Regions from separate parts of the Homo sapiens genome. Here region 1 is linked to region 2. Evidence: fine-mapped expression QTL. A gene starts in region 2. The other region holds a variant in brackets. All regions are shown on one strand. Distances are between the middles of the regions.

Region 1 (9,654 bases), 52 kb after region 2:
AGCCTGGGTAACAGAGCTGGAGTAAAAATAAAAATAAAAATAATCAGGAATTTCAAGAGGTCAAGGGCAGAACATTAAACTCCAAAGTTAATGAGTGTGGGCCCTGTGTGACCATACTGGCCCCAAGAAGTGGGCCCTGCCTGGGAGGCAGGTTCAAGGCTTCCCTCCCGAGGTAAGGTAGGGTCTTGTCTAGAGTTTTGTGGCCTTTCCTGGGATTGAGAATAATAGGTGCTGATGTCAGGGCCTCCAAGGAGCCAAGGGAAGACTTCTCACCCCTGCTGGCCTTCCTCCAGGACACCTCCCTGGGGTAACCCACGTGTACCCATCCACAGGACTTGATGTAGTGGAGGTTGGGGAAGGAGGGTGAGTGGGGCCTACCGAGATCCACCGAACTGCACCACGCTCTGCCCAAAGCCGCCTGCATCCTCCTGGAAGATCGTAGGCTCCTCCACATCCAGGTTGAATCCATGATAAGAAGCCAGGACTGAGGAATATTTGGTGGGCGGGGAGGCTGGGAGTTAAAGAAGCCCCAATCCCTAGGACCTCCCAGCCTCTTTTTCTTTTTTTTCTTTTTTTTTTTTTTTTTTTTGAGATGGAGTCTCGCTCTGTTGCTGAGGCTGGAGTGCAACGGCACGATCTCAGCTCACTGCAACTTCCGTCTCCTGGGTTCAAGCGATTCTCTTGCCTCAGCTTCCCAAGTAGCTGGGATTACAAGTGCACGCCACCATGCCCGGCTAATTTTTATATTTTTGGTAAAGATGGGGTTTCACCATGTTGGCCAGGCTGGTCACAAACTCCTGACCTCAGGGGATACGCCCATCTCGGCCTCCCAAAGTGCTGGGATTATAAGCATGAGCCACCGCACCCAGCCAAGCCTGATTTTTGATGGCACGTGAATGTGACTCTGATGCAGTTTTCAGCAGGGGGCCTCTTCCCTACGTGCAGTCAGGACTTGGGGGAAACAGGCCCAGGGAGGTGATGTCCAACCTTTCCCCCTCCCTGGTGGCTTCTGTGGCCTTCCACTCCCGGGGGAGGCTGGGGAGACCTCTGTCACCCACACCAGGGACTCCATGAGTGGGAGCAGGGAAGCCTGGGACAACATAGCCAGCTGGAGAGGTAGCTTAGTCGCCACCTGAGCACAGCCCCTGAGCCCCTCTTCATTCAGGTCACACTCTACTGACTCCGGGCCACTCGCACATGAAGCACTCCCCTGCCTCAGCTCCTCATAAGAGTGGTTGGAGCCGACCACCAGCCCCCAGCCTGCCCTCCCAGATGGAGTCCCCTCAGAACTCCTCCAAGCTTCTCCCCAGCACCCTGGCCCCACTTACCACTCAGAAGAAGCACAGTGCCGAAGGTCATCCCTGAGCAGCGCGTTGAGGGGAAGTGGAAGGTTGGGGACAGAGCACAGAAGGTGCTCACCCTCCCAGGGGGTAGTTAAAATAATGATTCAGGGCCTCCACACAGCAGGAAGAGGGGCACAGTGGGTAGGAGGGGCGTGGTTAATTATGGAACAGAAGTGGGGGCAGGGGCCAACAACACCCTGGGGAAAAACCCTCATTCTGTCCCCCTCCACAACCTGCAGGGACCTGGCTTCCTTCTCCCAGAAGACCACCCTCCCCCAGGCCTCAGGAGCCAGTTGGTACCCAGGGAGCCCCGTAGCTCTCTGAGGTCCCACAGGAGTGGAAGGACAGGAAGCAGAATGGCTGCAGAGGTCTTGGCATGTGGATGTGAGCCGGCAGAGAGGCAGGGAGAAGGGGAGCTAGGCCAGGGTGTGGTTTCAAAAAGCAGAGCCCCTCCAGAGGAGAATGGACACCCAAAATAATAAAGTCATGCCATGGGCTACTACTCAGCAAGAAATAAGATCAAACTACAGATCAGATGCCATGGCTCATGCCTGTGGTCCCAGAGCTTGGCAGGTGGATTGCTTGAGGCCAACAGTTCGAGACCAGCCTAGGCAACATAGCCAGACCCTGTCTTTACAATAAATAACAAAGAACAAACTGCAGTTCTGTACAACAATACAGGTTAACTCAATTTTATCTTAAGTGAAAGAAACCAGACACCAGAATGCCTAATGTCTGGTTCCTTTCATATACAAGAGAATGGGCAAAATTCATCTACGAAGATAGAAATCAGAAGAGTGGTTGTCTATGGTGGGGCAGAGAGGAAACTTTTTTTTTTTTTGACAAGTTTTGCTATGTCGCCCATGCTGGAATGCAGTGGCATGATCAGGGCTCACTGCAGCCTCAAATTCCCAGACTCAAGCAATTCTCCCACCTCAGCCTCCCAGTCACTGGGATTACTGATGCACACCACCATGCCCAGCTAATTTTTTTGTTTTTTGTAGAGACGAGATCGCACTATGTTGCCCATGCTGGTCTCGAGCTCCTGGACTCAAGCAATCCTCCCACCTCCTCCTCCCAAAGTACTGGGATTACAGGCGTGAGCCACCACATCCAGCCAGGAACCTTTAGCATGTGTTAAATTTAGCATTTAACACAATATTTTAATATTTATTACATGGGGTTGGGGAGAAGATAAATGAGTGGTTGTTATTTATTTTCTGTGATTTTTCTGTATGTTTGAAATATTCCATGATTAAACATAAAAGTTCCTTTAAAATGTGAAAAAGAAAAAGGTCTATATATAAAAGGCTAGGAATAGGCCAGGCGCAGTGGCTCACACCTATAATCCCAGCACTTTGAGAGGCTGAGGTGGATGGATCACCTGAGGTCAGGAGTTTGAGACCAGCTCTGGCCAATATGGTGAAACCCCGTCTCTACTAAAAATACAAAAATTAGCTGGGCATGGTGGTGCGCACCTGTAATCCCAGCTACTCAGGAGGCTGAGGCAGGAGAATCGCTTGAACCCAGGAGGTAGAGTTTGCAGTGAGTCAAGATTGCGCCACTGCACTCCAGCCTGGGCGACAGAGCAAGACTGTCTCAATAAATAAAAAATAAAAAATAAATAAAAAGCTTAGGAATATACTTTGAAGGTTAAAATATAACAAGATCCCTACCTATAACATAAATTATTTTGTATATATATGTGACAATTATTTAAAACATTTGGCTGGGCACAGTGGCTTATGTCTGTAATTCCAGCACTTTGGGAGGCTGAGGCAGGTGTATAGCTTGAGGTCAGGAGTTCGGGACCAGCCTGGCCAACATGGTGAAACCCCATCTCTACTAAAAATACAAAGATTAGCCAGGCATGGTGGTGCACGCCTGTAATCCCAGCTACTCAGGAAGCTGAGGCAGGAGAATCGCTTAAACCCAGGAGGCAGAGGTTGCAGTGAGTCAAGATCACACCACTGCATTCCAGCGTGGGCAACAGAGCAAGACTCTGTCTCAAAAACAAAACAAAATGAAACAAACAAAACATTTAAAATGTAATTAAACATCAAGTGCAAATAATATGAAATAGTTTTCTATACAAAAATTTTACATCAATTTACTTGAGAGCTGACATTTAATGGACAGAAGAAATTAATTGTGATGCATTAACGATGCCCTTGCAGGAAACCGAGCCGAGGGCTGTGATTGCTAACTTCGAGGCTGACTTATCTACTGCCTTACAAAGACTGCCCAGGCAAAGTGGAGCGGCAGCCTTCTCCCTCTTGTGCTGAAAGGTTTGTGGCTGGCCGCACCCTGTCATCAGTTCTGTGGATCTGTGAACTTCTCCCTGTATTTGGAACCACAAAATAATTTGTTGGTGATTCTTCATAATTCAGAAATTTAAAGAGCTCTTCATTTTCTCCATCTTCACCACACCTCATCTTTTACACATTTCTATATCCCCTTTAATTTTGGACTTCCTTCTGTAAGTAGTGCTTGAAACTCACGATTTGCTGATATCAGCAACTATAAAATTCTCCAACTTTCCCTAACTCGTATTATCGCTTGTCTCAGCAAAATTTTTTGTTTTCCACTCATGTTTGGAGAGCAATGATAAGGGCAAAATGCAGTAAGGTAGTCAAATGCTCACAATCACTGCAC[G/A]CTGCCAGGAAATCATCTTTCTCCCAGGCCTGGAGCTGGAGCTGCCAAGGCTCAGAGTCCACAGCAGCTGAAGGTGATGCCCCCAAATTCAGGGCATCCTCTGGGGACTTGATGGCGGCTCCACCCTTAAAGGAACCACCAGCTCTCAGTAAATTTTTAATTAATTAATCAATTAATTTTTATTTTGAGATGGAGTCCTGCTCTGTCGCCCAGGCTGGAGTGCAGTGGTGCAATCTCAGCTCATTGCAACCTCTGCCTCCCAGGTTCAAGTGATTCTCCTGTCTGAGCCTCCCGAGTAGCTGGGATTACAGGCACACACCACCACACCTGACTAATTTTTGTATTTTTAGTAGAGACGGGGTTTTGCCATATTGGCCAGGCTGGTCTCGAACTCCTGACCATAGGTGATCCACCTGCCTTGACTTCCCAAAGTACTGGATTACAGCAGTGAGCCACCGTGCCCGTCTTCTCTCAGTAAGTTTTAAAAAGTTACACTTAGATAAATAAGAAAACAAGAATTTAATAATTGTTTTCAAATCAATGTGAAGGAGAATATTTTTGCAGCCTTTCTCCAGAATGAGCTGTGTCTGCCTGGAGAGCATAACTCCAGGTCCCCATGCCTTAGAGGCCACAGCCAGGATTTGGTTTTGTTTCTCCTGGTCTTCCCCTCCTCCCAGGAAATTTGGCTTTATTCTTCACATGCATTCATAATTCTCTCTCTCCAAATCACTTTTTCCCCCGCATGAGAAAAATACATCCATAGTAATGTGTTCAAATTGCTGGCTTCCAATTCTCCCCTTTTCCATTTGGGGTATGGATTAGATGCCCTGGAATATTTGCATTGAATTTTACCTATTCATCTACTTTGATCATCATAATGATCGCTGAGGGAAGCCAGGCTGTCAATAGACACATCTAAAATACAAAGTTGATGAGAAGGATAGAGTTTGCAAATGAAAGTAATTAAATGCATTAGTCAAAAGCAGAGAGAAAGAAAACCTAGCCAATAGTTCATCAGATAGAAAAGGTTTTTCTTAATAGAAGGATATCATGAAACTGACAGTTAAAGTAGAATTAATTTTTGTTGTTGTTGTTGTTAAGAGACAGAGTCTGGCACTGTTGCCCAAGCTAGAGGGCAGTGGCGTGACCATAGCTCACTGCAGCCTCGGACTCCTGGGCTCAAGTGATCCTCCCACCTCTGGTTTTTTTGTTGTTGTTGTTTGTTTGTTTGTTTGTTTTCTACAGATGGAGTCTCACTATGTTGCCCAGGTTGATCTCGAACTCTTGGGTTCAAGCAATCCTCTGGCCTCCTAAAGCACTGGAATTACAGGTATGAACCACCGCACCTGGAGCCACTGCACCTGGCCTCGAAATTAATTTTGTTTTTTTTGAGACGGAGTCTCACTCTGTCGCCCAGGCTAGAGTGCAGTGGTGCGACTCACTGCAACCTCGGCCTCCCGAGTTCAAGCAATTCTCCCACCTCAGCCTCCTGAGTAGCTGGGATTACAGGTGCACGCCACCATGTCCAGCTAATTTTTTTGTATTATTAGTCGATACAGGCTGGCCTCCAACTCCTGACGTCAGTCGATTCACCCTCCTCAGCCTCCCAAAGTGCTGGGATTACAGGCATGAGCCACCACACCCAGCCCAAAATTAATTTTTATATCATCAGGGATAATACCTTTGTCCAGAGGGCACAAATACAGATGTTGACTTCAAATTCTTGGTCCTGTCACACAATATACTACCCTGAAGATTTTCAGTAGATCCTTTTACTTATCTGTTCACACTTGTTTTGTGCATTTCTTCATCATGCTGAATTCCTGACAGCTTTGTATAAACCACGTAGTATGGAGACAGGTTTTCCCCTCTGAGCTGATAAAGTTTATAAAATATTCTGGACACACATTCACTCAGACTAGAAACGAAATCATGACTAACTTGGATTCTGCATGTATGCCTCTCTTAAGAATCAGTTTGGCCACTTTGCCCCACTCACCCATGGGTGGGCTAACAGGCACAGATGAACAGGGGCCAGCAGAAAACACCCATGACCAGCAGGCACTTTGCATCCAATCTAGTTAATGTATTTCTTTTTTTCACTCAGTTCTCCTAAAACCACCAGCCCAGGCTCCTTGCTAGAAAAATTGCCAGGTCATGAGAGTTAAATCATAAAAAGTTGGATGCTCAACTTTTCTAGCTTTATAGATGTGTTTTTTGCAGACATGCGACATTAAAGACAATTTAGCTAGGCCAGGCATGGTGGCTAATGCCTGTAATCCCAGCACTTTGGGAGGCGGAAGCAGGAGGATCACTTTAGGGCAGGAGTTCAAGACCAGCCTGGGCAACACAGTGAGACACCATCTCTAAAATTTTTTTTTTTTTTGAGACAGAGTCTCACTCTGTCACTCAGGCTGGAGTGCAGTGGTGCAATCTCGGCTCACTGCAGCCTCTGCCACCCAGGTTCCAGCAATTCTCCTGCCTGTAGCTGGAACTACAGGCACATGCCACCACACCCAGCTAATTTTTGTATTTTTAGTACAGGCGGGATTTCACCATGTTGGCAAGGCTGGTCTCAAACTCCTGACCTCAGGGGATCCACCTGCCTCAGCTTCCCAAAGTGCTAGGATTACAAGCACGAGCCACCATGCCTGGCAACGTTTTTAAAACATTAGCCAGGCATGATGGCACACACCTTTAGTCCCAGAAGCTCGGAAGGCTGAAGCAAGAGGATCGCTTGAGCCCAGAAGACCAAGGCTGCAGTGAGCTCTGATTGTGCCACTGCACTCCAGCCTGGGCAACAGAGCAAGATTCTGTCTCAAAAAAAAAAAAAAATTACCATATGATTCAGCAATTCCACTTCTGGGTGTATACCCAAGAGAATTGAAAGCATGGTCTTGAAGAGATATTTGTGCGCCCATATTCATCATTCATGAGAGGCAAAAAAAGCAACCCAAATGCCCATTGATGGGCAAATGGATAAACAAAACGTGGTATATACACACAATGGAATATTATTCAGCCTTCAAAAGGAGAGGAATTCTGACACATGCTACCACATGGGTGAACCTTGAGGACATTATGCTAAGCAAAATATGCCAGTCGCAAAAAGACAAATGCTGTATGAGTCTATTTCTATGACATGCCAAAGCAGTCAAATTCATAGAGACAGAAAGAATTGTGGTTGCCAGGAGTTAGGGAAAGGGGAGAATTGGGAGTTGTTTAATGGGTATAGGGTTTCAGTTTTACAAGATAGAAAGAGCTCTTGAGATTGGCTATACTTAAAAATGGTTAAGATGGTAAATTTTATGTTATGTATATTTTATCACAATTAATTTTTTTAAGTTCCAAGTAACTATCTTTCTCTTTGACATTAATGTGAAAAGCAATCTCCTACTTGCCTATTCCTCCATACAACACTGAAAAGATGAATAGGCAATGGCCATGATTTGATCATGTTCACCATTTTCCCTCCTTTCTTAAGCACTGAGTCAAGGGTGAGAGGCATCCCGTGAACTACCGTGTGCTCTGTGAATACTGCCCTGCAAGCATCAGCCTCTTTAGCCTGAGTGCACCATAAGTAGTTAGCCCATTCTACTGATGCAGGGCAGGCAAGCTCCAAAATTGGGGCTTAGCCCGGGAGGGTTCTTAACTTTGCTCAGGAAAGAACTGAAGAGCGAGCCTGTGGTGGAAGAAAGCAGGTTTATTGAAGCAGCAGTGGCAGCAAGGTAGCTGTTCCTTGCAGAGCAGGACAACCCATAGGCAGTGAGCCCACAGTAGCAGCCAGTGGGCTGCTGGCTAACTGTACTTATACCGACTTTTAATTACATGCAAATTAAGGGGTGGGTTATTCAGAACTATCTGGAAAAGGTGTGGGGAGTTTCCAGAACCATATGAGGTAACTTGCTGACCGTTGCTATGGTGTGTTTCCATGGCATTTGTAAACTGTCATGGCACCGGTGGGAGTGTCTTTATGCTAATAAGTGGCGAGGGTAATGAGAGTTTGCTTTCCTGGCCATCTGCTGGTTTGGGCTGTTTTTTTAGTGCATCCCATCTTGACCAGATCATGCTCTGATTAGCTGGGTTGTGACCAGAAAACAGGTCCTGCTGATCTCCTACCTCACTATCTCTCCCACCACTCATAGGATTAACATTAATTACAAATGAACAACAAAACCTCCTTTTCTGTCACTAGAGGTTTCAGCAGCTGAAAAGCTCCCACATACATGTGTTGCACAAAGATGAAAGCTGATTCAGACTTTGTATGGCAGTGACTTATTCCAAGTATGAGGTGACATGCTTGCTCTCCCACACAAGCGTTAGTCACTGCTATTCTGCTGTATACCTCTGACATACACAATGTCCAAGCTGTTCCTTCACAAAGGAATCTTGCTCACAGCATAGTCTTCAAGCATAGTATTTGCCAGACACTGTAGGTAGCCTATCCAACAGCCACCAGCGCTGCCACCTTCCTGGCTGGTGGAGCTACCCTCCTTTTTTTTTCTCTTTTTTTTTTTTTTTTTGTTGAGACAGAGTTCTACTCTGTCCCCCAGGCTGGAGTGCAGTGGCATGACCTCAGCTCACTGTAACTTCCACCTCTCAGGTTCAAGCGATTCTCCTGCCTCAGCCTCCCAAGTAGCTGGGATTACAGGCACCTGCCACCATGCCCAGCTAATTTTTGTATTTTCGGTAGAGACAGAGTTTTGCCATGTTGGTCAGGCTGGTCTCAATCTCCTGACCTCAGGTGACCTACCCACCTCTGCCTCCCAAAGTGCTGAGATTATAGGCATGAGTCACTGCACCTGGCTGGAGCTACCTCTTTTTATTAAGCCTGTGAAAAGCACATGCTCACCTTCTCAGCACTGCATGCAACCAAGGGGATGGAATTTGACCCAATCCTAGTCAGTGGGAAAGAACTAAACCGCCCCCGCAAGGACGATCAATTGGAAGATCAGAAAGAATCTGTCAATGCTGAGACTCTGCATTAAACACTAACCTGCACCTGAACCTCTTGCAGAGTAAAGGTCTTCTGTCTGCTCTTACATGCTTTTGTTTTTTTCTATTATTTGCAGCCAAAAGCAACCTTTCAATACAGGTATGAACTCTACTGCCATTTCTACAAGCTTCTTGGAAATTATGTGACTTGTACCTACTTTTGCTACTTTAAAAAGCACCTTTGATTTATGTCACTGTGGTTTTGCTGTCTCCTCTGTATTCGGTGACAACACTAATCACTTTTGAATAGGAAAGCTACATGTAGCAGTTGTTCTAAGAAATCTCTATTGCTTTACCTGAGGCAGGCAGATCATGAGGTCAGGGGTTCGAGACCAGCCTGACCAACATGGTGAAACCCCCGTCTATACTAAAAATACAAAAATTAGCTGGGCGTGGTGGTGCGCGCCTGTAATCCCAGCTACTCAAGAGGCTGAGGCAGGAGAATCACTTGAACCCAGGAGGCAAAGGTTGCAGTGAGCCAAGATGATGCCACTGCACTCCAGCCTGGGCGACAGAGCAAGACTCCATCTCAATAAATAAATAAATAAGAAAATAACACAAAAGCTTTCAGAGGTTCATGCGACTGTTTGATAAAGTTTCAGAATGGGCAGCACACTAGGGACAAATACATGTCAGAACCAATACAACCTACCTGTCAGGG
Region 2 (9,654 bases):
GCTTCCCAAAGTGCTGGGATTATAGGAGGGAACTACCTCGCCCTGCCTATTGTATAATTTTTTATTGAGAGTGCTATGGTTTGAACATCCCCTCCAACTCATGTTGAAATTTAATTGCCATTGTAACAATATTAAGAGATGAGGCCTTTACGAGGTGATTAAGTCATGAAAGTTCTGTCCTCATGAGTGGATTAATGCCATTATCATGGGAATGAGTTAGTTATCACAGGGGTAGGCTCCTGATACAAGGATAAATTCAGTGCTATTTCTCTCTGTGTCTCACGTCTCACAAGATTGCATGCCTGATATGGTTTGGCTCTGTGTCCCCACCCAAATCTTGTCTCAAATTGTAATCCCCACATGTTGGGGGAATGGCCTGGTGGGAGGTGACTGAATCATGGGGGCGGACTTCCCCCTTGCTATTCTCGTGATCGAATTCTCAGGAGATCTGGTTGTTTGATAAGTGTGTGGCTCTTCCTCTTTGCTCTCCCTTTCTCTTCTGCTGCCATGTAAGATGTGCCTTGCTTCCCCTTCACCTTCTGCCATTATTGTAAGTTTCCTGAGGCCTCCCCAGCCATGTGAGTCAATTAAACTTTTTTTTTTTTTTTTTGAGACCGAGTTTCAATCTGTCACCGAAGCTGGAGTGCAGTGGCGCTGTCTCAGCTCACTGCAACCTCTGCCTCCCAGGTTCAAACAATTATCCTGCCTCAGCCTCCTGAATAGCTGGGATTACAGGTGCCTGCCACCATAGCCAGCTAAATTTTTTGTAGAGACAGGGTTTTACCGTTGGCCAGGCTGGTCTCAAACTCCGTACCTCAAGTGATCTGCCCACCTTGCCTCCCAAAGTGCTGGGACTACAGGCGTGAGCCACTGCGCCTGGCCTCTTTTTTTTTTTCTTTCTTTTTTTTTTTTTTAAATAAATTACCCAGTCTCAGGTAGTTCCTTACAGCAGTGTGAAAACAGACTAATACAAAGCACTTTCACCTTCTGCCATGGATGACCCTTGATGCTGGTGCCATGCTGTTGGACCTCTAAGACTGCAGAACTGTGAGCCAAATAAATCTCCTTTCTTTATAAATTACCCAATCTGTGGCATGGTTATAGCAGCAGAAAATAGACTACACCAGAATATAGAATATATCAAGAGTATAGAAACACAACTGACTTCTGTGTATTGATTTTGTTGTTACAGCTTTGCAGAATTTGTTTATTAGCTCTAACAAAGTTTTTTTCATAGATTCTTTAGGATTTTCTATAAAATCACCTCATCTATAAATGGAGATAGTTTTACTTCTTCCTTTCTGATTTGCTTGCTTTTTATTTTTCCTTGCCTCATGGCAAGAGCTTCCAGGCAAGAACTGGTGAGAGCTTCCAGTACAAGGCTGAATAGATGTGGCAAAAGTGGGCATCCCTTTCTTGTTTCTGATCTTAGAGGAAAAGCTTTTATTCTCTCACCATTGAGTATGATGTTGGCAGTGGGTTTTTTCATAGATGCCCTTTATCACGTTAATTGAGTTTCCTTCTATTCCTAGTTTGCTGAGTATTTTTATGATGAAGGGTGCTGAATTTTGTCAAATGCTGTTTTTACACCAATTGAAATAATAATGTTTTCCTTTATTGTATTGATGTAGTGTATTAATTTATTTTCATAAGTTAAGCTAACCGTACATTCCTGGGATAAATCCCACCTGGTTATCCTTTTTATATATTTCTGAATTTTATTTGCCGGTATTTTCTTGAGGATTTTTATGTCTATATTCATAAGAGATATTAGTCTCTAGTTTTCTTGTGATGTCTTTGTCTGATTTTGATAGTAGGGTAATACTGGCCTCAGAATAAGTTGGGAGGTTTTCACTGTCATGACTTTTATAACCTAATTATAAGTAATTCTTGCCAGGTACGGTGGCTCATGCATGTAATCCCAGCACTTTGGGAGGCTGAGGTGGGTGGATCACCTAAGGTCAGGAGTTCGAGACCAGCCTGGCCAACATGGCAAAACCCCATCTCTATTAAAAATACAAAATTTAGCCAGGTGTGGTGGCCGTGTGTGTAATCCCAGCTACTTGGGAGGCTGAGGCACGAGAATCACTTGAACCCAGGAGGCAGAGGTTGCAGTGAGCCGAGATCGTGCCACTGCACTCCAGCCTGGGTGATAGAGCAAGACTCTGTCAAAAAAAGAAAGAAAGAGAGAGGAAAGAAAGAAAGAGAATGAGAGAAAGAGAGAAAGAAAGAAACTCCTATAGTATTCCACAGGTCACATAGACCAACCCTGGTGCATTGTGGGAAGGGACTAAAAAGGGTGTGAACACCAGGAGTAGGATCACTGGGAACTATCTCAGCAGATGGCTGCCATAGCCACCAACTGACTAACATTCACTGAACACTCACCATGTGCCAGACATTGTGCTAAGCTCTTCACTTGGCTTATCTCCTTGAATCTTCCCAGCAACCTTATGAGGTAAGTAGGTGCTGTTATTATTGCCATGTTACAGATGAAGAAATTGAGATACAGAGATTAGATTCACCAAACTGCCCAAACTCCCACAGCTATTAACTGGTGGAACCAGGAATCAAACTCAGTAGGGTGTGCATATAATATACTTTGGGTGGTGGTGGTTGTTGTTGTTGTTGTTGTTGTTGTTGTTGTTGTTGTTGTTTTGAGACAGGGTTTCACTCTTTCACCCAGGCTGGAGTGCAGTGGCATGATCTGCAACCTCTGCAACACTGCAACCTCTGCCTCCTGGGTTCAAGCGATTCTCCTGCCTCAGTCTCCTAAGTAGCTGGGATTACAGGTGTGCACCACCATACCCGGCTAATTTTTGTATTTTTAGTAGAATAATTTTTGTATTTTTAGTTTCACCATGTTGGCCAGGCTGGTCTCGAACTCCTGACCTCAACTGATCCACTACCCTTGCCCTCCCAAAGTGCTGGGATTACAGGCGTGAGCCACCGCGTCTAGCTTTTTTTTTTTTTTTTTTTTTTTTTAAGAGACATGGTCTTGCTCTGTTGCCCAGGCTGGAGTGCAGAGGTGTCACCATAGCTCACTGCACCTTCAACCTCCTGGGCTCAAGTGATCCTCCCACTTAAGCATCCTGAGTAGCTGGGACCACAGGCGCCCACCACCAAGTCCGGCTAAATTTTAATTTTTTTTTGTAGAGATGGGGGTCTCGCTTTGTTGCCCAGGCTGATCCCTAACTCCTGGCCTCAAGCAGTCCTCCCGCCTTGGCCTCCCAAAGTGTTGGGATTACAGGCGTGAGCCACTGCGCTCAGTCTGTGTATCCTGATTACTAAATTTTGGGGTGTCTCCTTAAATTCTGTGCCAGAAGCCAGTGCCTCACTCGCCCTACCCTAATTCCACCCATCCCGGTGACCCAATGTCCCCGTTCAACCTGCACCATGGCGCTTCCCAGCCCCGCTCCTAGCGCCTCCTCCCGCCCCTAGGGGTCGCCGTCGCGCCGTCATTCCCTTCCTTCGATGCCCGGGCGAGACGCGCAAAAGGTGGGAGGAGGAGAGGCCCGCGTGTGTGCATGCGCATGGCGCGGACTCCCTCATCCTGGTCAGGGAGTGGAGGGGTTGGGTCTCAGGCAGCTGTTAGCGGAGTCCTCAGTGTCTCGGTCGTTTCTCCCTGTCTTGGTGAGGGCCAGGGGACAGGTCGGGGCAGTATTTGGGGGAAGCGAGAGGCAAGCAGGGCGGGCTGGATACGGAGCGCCCTATGACTGAGGTTAGGGAGGACGCCCGAGACCCCCGGCATCCTAGTCCTGGGCCGTGGGCTCCGGACGCCGGGCCAGGACGCCTCCAGCTCCCAGGGTCCCTTGCGGGGACCATGTTTCCCCACAGGCCCCGCGGCTGCCGGGTCCTCGCCACGTCCCCTTCCCGGAGCTACGCGCCCGGCTGGGTTCCGATCCGCCGTGTCTCTCGGGGGCGGCTCGCGGGGCAGGGGCGCTCCCGGCTCGGCCGCACGCCCAAGTGTCATGCGGGAGGTACGCGGGCACGGGACCTCACCGGGTAAGAGCGAGCGAAGGGGCCGGGCGCGGTGGCTCACGCCCGTAATCCCAGCACTTTGGGAGGCCGAGGCGGGCGGATCACGAGGTCAGGAGTTCGAGACCAGCGTGGCCAATATAGTGAAATCCCTTCTCTACTAAAAATGCAAAAATTAGCCGGGCGTGGTGGCGGACGCCTGTGGTCCCAGCTACTCGGGAGGCTGAGGCAGGAGAATCGCTTGAACCCGGGAGGCAGGGGTTGCAATGAGCCGAGATCTCGCCACTGCACTCCAGCCTGGGGAACACAGCGAGACTCCGTCTCAAAAATAAATAAATAAATAAATAAATAAATAAATAAAATCGAGCGAAGGGCCGCAGCCCGGGCCCACCGCCTCCACCTGAACACGCGCCTCCGCCGAGCCCCTCGACCCCGCGCCAGGCGAGGCTTGGTGGGGCGTTCCGTGGACCCCACACGCACGTCGGTGTTATCAGGAGGGAAGGGGCGGGCCAACACCTCCACCGCCTTTGCGGCCGGCCGTCCACCCTCCATTCTCCTGCTGGAGCCGTTTCCCAGCGATTCTCCGGCAGTGCTGGCTGCAGCACACCCGGCCCGCCTTAAAATCTCAGCCGCCTCCCCCGTCCCGGAGTCCTCCCCTGGGTTCTGTCCTTAACTGCATCACCGACCCCACATACACACAGGCATGAACACCCATCTTTTCACACGCCCCGTTTGCTTTCTCAGAACTTAGCAGATACTCTTAAGCTGAGAGGGTTTGGTGAGGTTAAAATTTATCTTGTGACATTGAGTCCAGCAGTTCAGAGCCTTGAACACCTCAGTACATGGCCTTGACCTTAGTTTATTACTTCTGTATTCTGCCGGGCGCTGCGGCTCACGTCTGTAATCCCAGCACTTCGGGAAGCCAAGGCGGGAGGATCGCTTGAGCCCAAGAGTTGGAGAGTAGCGTAGGCAACAATGAGATCCTGTCTACACTAATTATTTAAAAAAAAAAAATTAGCCAGGTGTGGTGGTGCACACCTGTGATCCCAGCTACTCAGGAGGCTGAGGGAGGACCGCTTGAGCCCAGGAGGTCGAGGCTGCAGTGAGCCATGATGGTGCCACTGCACTCCAGCCTGGATGATAGAGGGAGAGCCTGTCTCTAATACTAATAATAATCAATAATAATACTGTACGGTGTGCCCATTACTCAGGAGGCACTGTAGTAGAAGGATAAGCTGTGGCGGTAACTGAGGATAAACAGATAACCATTTAGCTAAAAAGGTTCTTAACCTTGGCTGTATGTTGTTACTCCTGGGTGCAGCACAGGCAAAATAATTTTGAAAGCTCCCAGGTAATCCTAATGTGCAGCTAGCACTGAGAACCACTGCTTTAACCCCTGAGGAAGGTAGGTAGGGCCTAGGGTGGCCCGAAGCACTGGGCCGGGCACCTTCAGTAGGGAGCAATCTCAACCCTTTATCCCTGTGAGTTACTCATATTGTAACATTTTCTGTGGGTTCCATGCTGTGAAAACAGTAAGCACTGCCCTACAGTAACAAGCATGCTTGACAGCCCTTGTGTCAGATCATCCATTGGAAGAGAGGGGAATCAAATCACAAAAGGCCAACTGGAAAACACACTCATCTAGGGAAGAGATTAGGAAAGCCTGGGCAAGGCTGATGACAGGGAATGTAAGAGAGGAGTTATAGTCACAGGAAGAATGTTGAGTGATAGTAGAAAACTAGATGGAAATTTCTGGCAGCCTGTGGTACTTTTAATTGGCACAAGGACTGATTTCGGTAACAGGTCCCCCTGACTCCCAAAGGAGAGCTGCGGGAATTGCTGTGGTCTTCCTAGGGCCCTCAAGACCATGAATGGGCTGGAGTCTGGACCAGTCTCAGGCACTAGCAAATTGGACAGTAGCTCATTCATACTGGTATAAGAGCTGCTGCTTTATCGAGGCCAGAGGCCCTTTCTTATATGGGGCAGCAGCTGCGCTCCTGGGAATGATTCCTACATAAAAGATTCCACATGGAAAAAAAATAAGCTCTGTGCATTCCATGAAGATGCTCATTACAGCATTATCTCTACTAATGATCTATTCCAATAATAAAGGAAATGAATACAATATAATATGGTATTTCAAACAAAGCCATTAAAATAGATCATTATGAAAGAATGTGAATGAATGAGAAATGTTCATAAGTTAAAAAAATGCTTATTTTTCAGAGAGCAAAATTAGACTCGTCTGTTGCTTGGAATGGCTTCCTCTTGCTCTGTGTCTAAACTATGATTATGGAGTAGTTAAAATGCATATGCATGTTGGCAAAGCCTGAATAAAATATGCAAACGTGAAAATATTTTTTGTAGAGGAGATGAAATTATGGAGGAAGGAGTGTGTCTATTTCAAAATTGTCCTAATGAGAAGTATTGTGGCATAGTAGTTCAGAGGAAGCTCCCTGGAGCCAAAAATTTTTTTACCGTATATATGGCTTTTCTAAATTACTTAAACTTTCTATGCCTCAGTTTCTTCATCTATAAAATGGGGTAATCGTTAGTATCTTGGAGAGTTGTTGTGAGGTCTAACCAATATGTGGAAACTCTTAGAATAGTACCTGGCATGTAGTAAGTACACTGTAAGTCCTGGCTATTTCAACTCCGTATTATTTATAGCTTAATAAAATATTTTAAAGATAGTTGGCCAGTCAGCACTGATACTCCTGTCTACCTGTGTTACATCTCAGAAGAGGCTTAGCCTATCTGTGCTGACACTTACTGAAGTATAAGTTATATATAAAACACACCCACTTTAAGTGTACAGGTTGCTGGTTTTTGGTGAATGTGTACACGGGCATAACCATCATCACATTCAGGGTGCAGAACTTTGCCGTCACCCTCTCATGCCCCGTGCAGTCAGCTGCTCTCTCCCTGACCCAGCCCCAGAGAACCACTGGTCTACTTTCTGCCCCTATGAGTAAGTTTTGCTTTTTGTAGAAATGGAATTTCACAGAAATTGAATCATATAGTATGTATTCTCTTGTGTCTGGCTTCTCTGGTTTAACATAATTTTGAGATTCATCCATTGCTTGCAGGTAACAGCAGTTCCTCTTTGTTGCTAGTATTCTGTTACATGGGTAAACCACACTTTATTCTTCCACCCATTGATGGACATTTGGATGTTTCTATCTTATGCCTATTATGAATAAAGCTGATATGCACATTTGTGAAAAAGTCTTTGTGTGGACATATGTTTTTATTTTCCTTGAGTAAATCCTAAGAGTAGAATTATTGAGTCATGTGGTAAGTGTACATTTAATTTACTGTTAACCAAAACTGGTTTCCAAAATGCCCAGGCCATTTTATATTTCCCCAGCAATGTGTGAGACTCCATATCCTCAGGCAACAGTTAGCACCTTCAGTCTGCTCGATTTTAGTGGGTGCATAAGGGCACTCCTTGTGGTTTTAATTTGCATTTCTCGGGTGACTGATGATAGCACATCACTTTTTTTGTATCATTATACTTTTAAGTTCTAGGGTACATGTGCACAACGTGCAGGTTTGTTACATATGTATACATGTGCCATGTTGGTGTGCTGCACCCATTAACTCGTCATTTACATTAGGTATATCTGCTAATGCTATCCCTCCCCCCTCCCCCCACCCCACAACAGGCCCCGGTGTGTGATGTCCCCCTTCCTGTGTCCATGTGTTCTCATTGTTCAATTCCCACCTATGAGTGGGAACATGCGGTGTTTATTTTTTTGTCCTTGGGATAGTTTGCTGAGAATGAGCACATCACTTTTAAATGGTAGCTCACTTCTAGGGAAGGAAGGAGAGCGATGAGTCAAAAGAAGTTCCACTGTTTTTGAGCTTAGGTGTCCAAGAGAATAAAACTGGTGCCACCAACAAAAGTGAAATTAGGAGTCAGTGATTTTTTGGCATAGGGGTATTAAATTTGAAGTGATGGCAGGATGTTAAGGGGGAAATAACTGGGTGGCAGCATGCTTTGCAGGCTTGGAGCTCAGTGGGAGGTCAGGTCCTGAGATAAGAGCCAAGTATCCGCTGAGAGGTGAAGCACAAACGGGGAGAGAGAGAGAGATGAGACCCAAGGATCAAGCCAGGGCTCAGAGTGGCCAGAAGCATCTGTTCCCCAGTCCCCATTTCCAAGTAATGGAAAATCCAGACTGACAGGCCTAATAGGCCTAAAAATAGATAAAATTAGCCCACTTATATATGAGCCACTGGAATACTTTCTAGTCCTATTGCAAACTCTACTCTTGGCTACTTTGATTGTTAAAATTGTAAATTAAAAGTTATCTATACCCTTTTTAAAAAAGAGTTTCAATATGGTTTGTGACAATCAGTTAATTATCTTTGTGGCCTGAGGGGCCCCCTTCTTTTAATCACCTTAACCAATAAAGCAATAATGTCTTTCTGAAGTTGATTCTTTTTGATGGTTTGTGTTTGGATGTTCAAGGTTAATGAGGAAATGATCCTTACCACGCTTTTGTAATTTTAATACAGACAGGGTCTTGCTTTGTTGCCCAGGTTAGTCTCCTGGGCTCAAGGATCCTCTGGCCTCAGCCTCCCAAAGTGCTAGGATTATAGGCATGAGCCACTGCGCCCAGCCTCTTGCTACACTTTCATTCAGGATAAAGATGGTAATATCCAAGACTACTGAAAGTCTTATAACCCCAATCCAAATTTTAAAATAAATCTTACTATTAAGAAGCATTGATTGGCCATGTGCAGTGGCTCACACCTGTAATCCCAGCACTTTGGGAGGCTAAGGTGGGTGGATCATGAGGTCAGGAGTTTGAGACCAGCCTGACCAACATGGTGAAATCCTGTCTCTACTAAAATACAAAAAAAAATTAGCCGGCAATGGTGGCAGGCGCCTGTAATCCCAGCTACTCGGGAGGCTGAGGCAGGAGAATCGCTTGAACCCGGGTGGCAGAGGTTGCAGTGAGCCGACATAGCTAGCACCACTGCACTCCAGCCTGGGTGACAGAGCAAGACTCCCTCTCAAAAAAAAAAAAAAAAAAACATTGATTATAGGAGGCCGGGCATGGTAGCTCATGCTTGCAATCCCAGCACTTTGGGTGGCCCAGGTGGGCCAACCGCTTGAGCCCAGGAGTTTGAGAGCAGCTTGGGCAACATGATAAAAACCAGCTTCTACCAAAAAAAAAAAAAAAAATGCTGGGCCTAGTGGTGTGCAACTACAGTCCCAGCTACTTGAGAGACTGAAGCGGGAGGATCACTTGAGCCAGAGAGGCAAAGGTTGCAGTGATCAGAGATCGTACTACTGCATTCCAGCCTGGGCAACAGAAATAGACCCTGTCTTAAAAAAAAAAAAAAAAAAAAAAAAGAAGGAAAGAAAAAGTAAAATAGTAATAAAGAAGCATTGATTACAGGATTCTGAAAGCAAAGTCTCCTTTGCAGTTTGTAGTAAAATTTTTCTGTGGTTTTCTCTCCCTCTAGAGAGAATGATGGCTCTGGGATCTGAAATCTTTCCTTCCGCAGGAACTGGACACGGCAGTGAGGACCAGCGTATCCAAGAGGATGGACTTAGTGATGGGGAACACCCAGGGACATGCCCGAGAGCCTCAAGAAACACCTTCAGATGACATTGCCCAGCGTCTTACATTAGAGAACTCTCCAGACAGCCCCCGAGGCCTG

The links.
Region 1: its variant is fine-mapped to the expression of ZNF843 in thyroid (GTEx, PIP 0.93).

The regions. Positions count from the first base shown.
Region 1 is chr16:31,385,066-31,394,719 of GRCh38, reverse strand. ITGAD (integrin subunit alpha D) reads right to left here and starts at 1,385. Exons shown (of 30, transcript NM_005353.3): 1 at 1,329-1,385; 2 at 379-484. The coding sequence starts at 1,359. The variant G/A (reference allele first, on the strand shown) is at 3,999.
Region 2 is chr16:31,436,987-31,446,640 of GRCh38, reverse strand. It overlaps ZNF843 (zinc finger protein 843), which reads left to right and starts at 3,852. Exons shown (of 2, transcript NM_001136509.3): 1 at 3,852-4,005; 2 at 9,457-9,654. RefSeq lists a silencer at 3,836-4,045 and an enhancer at 3,430-4,225.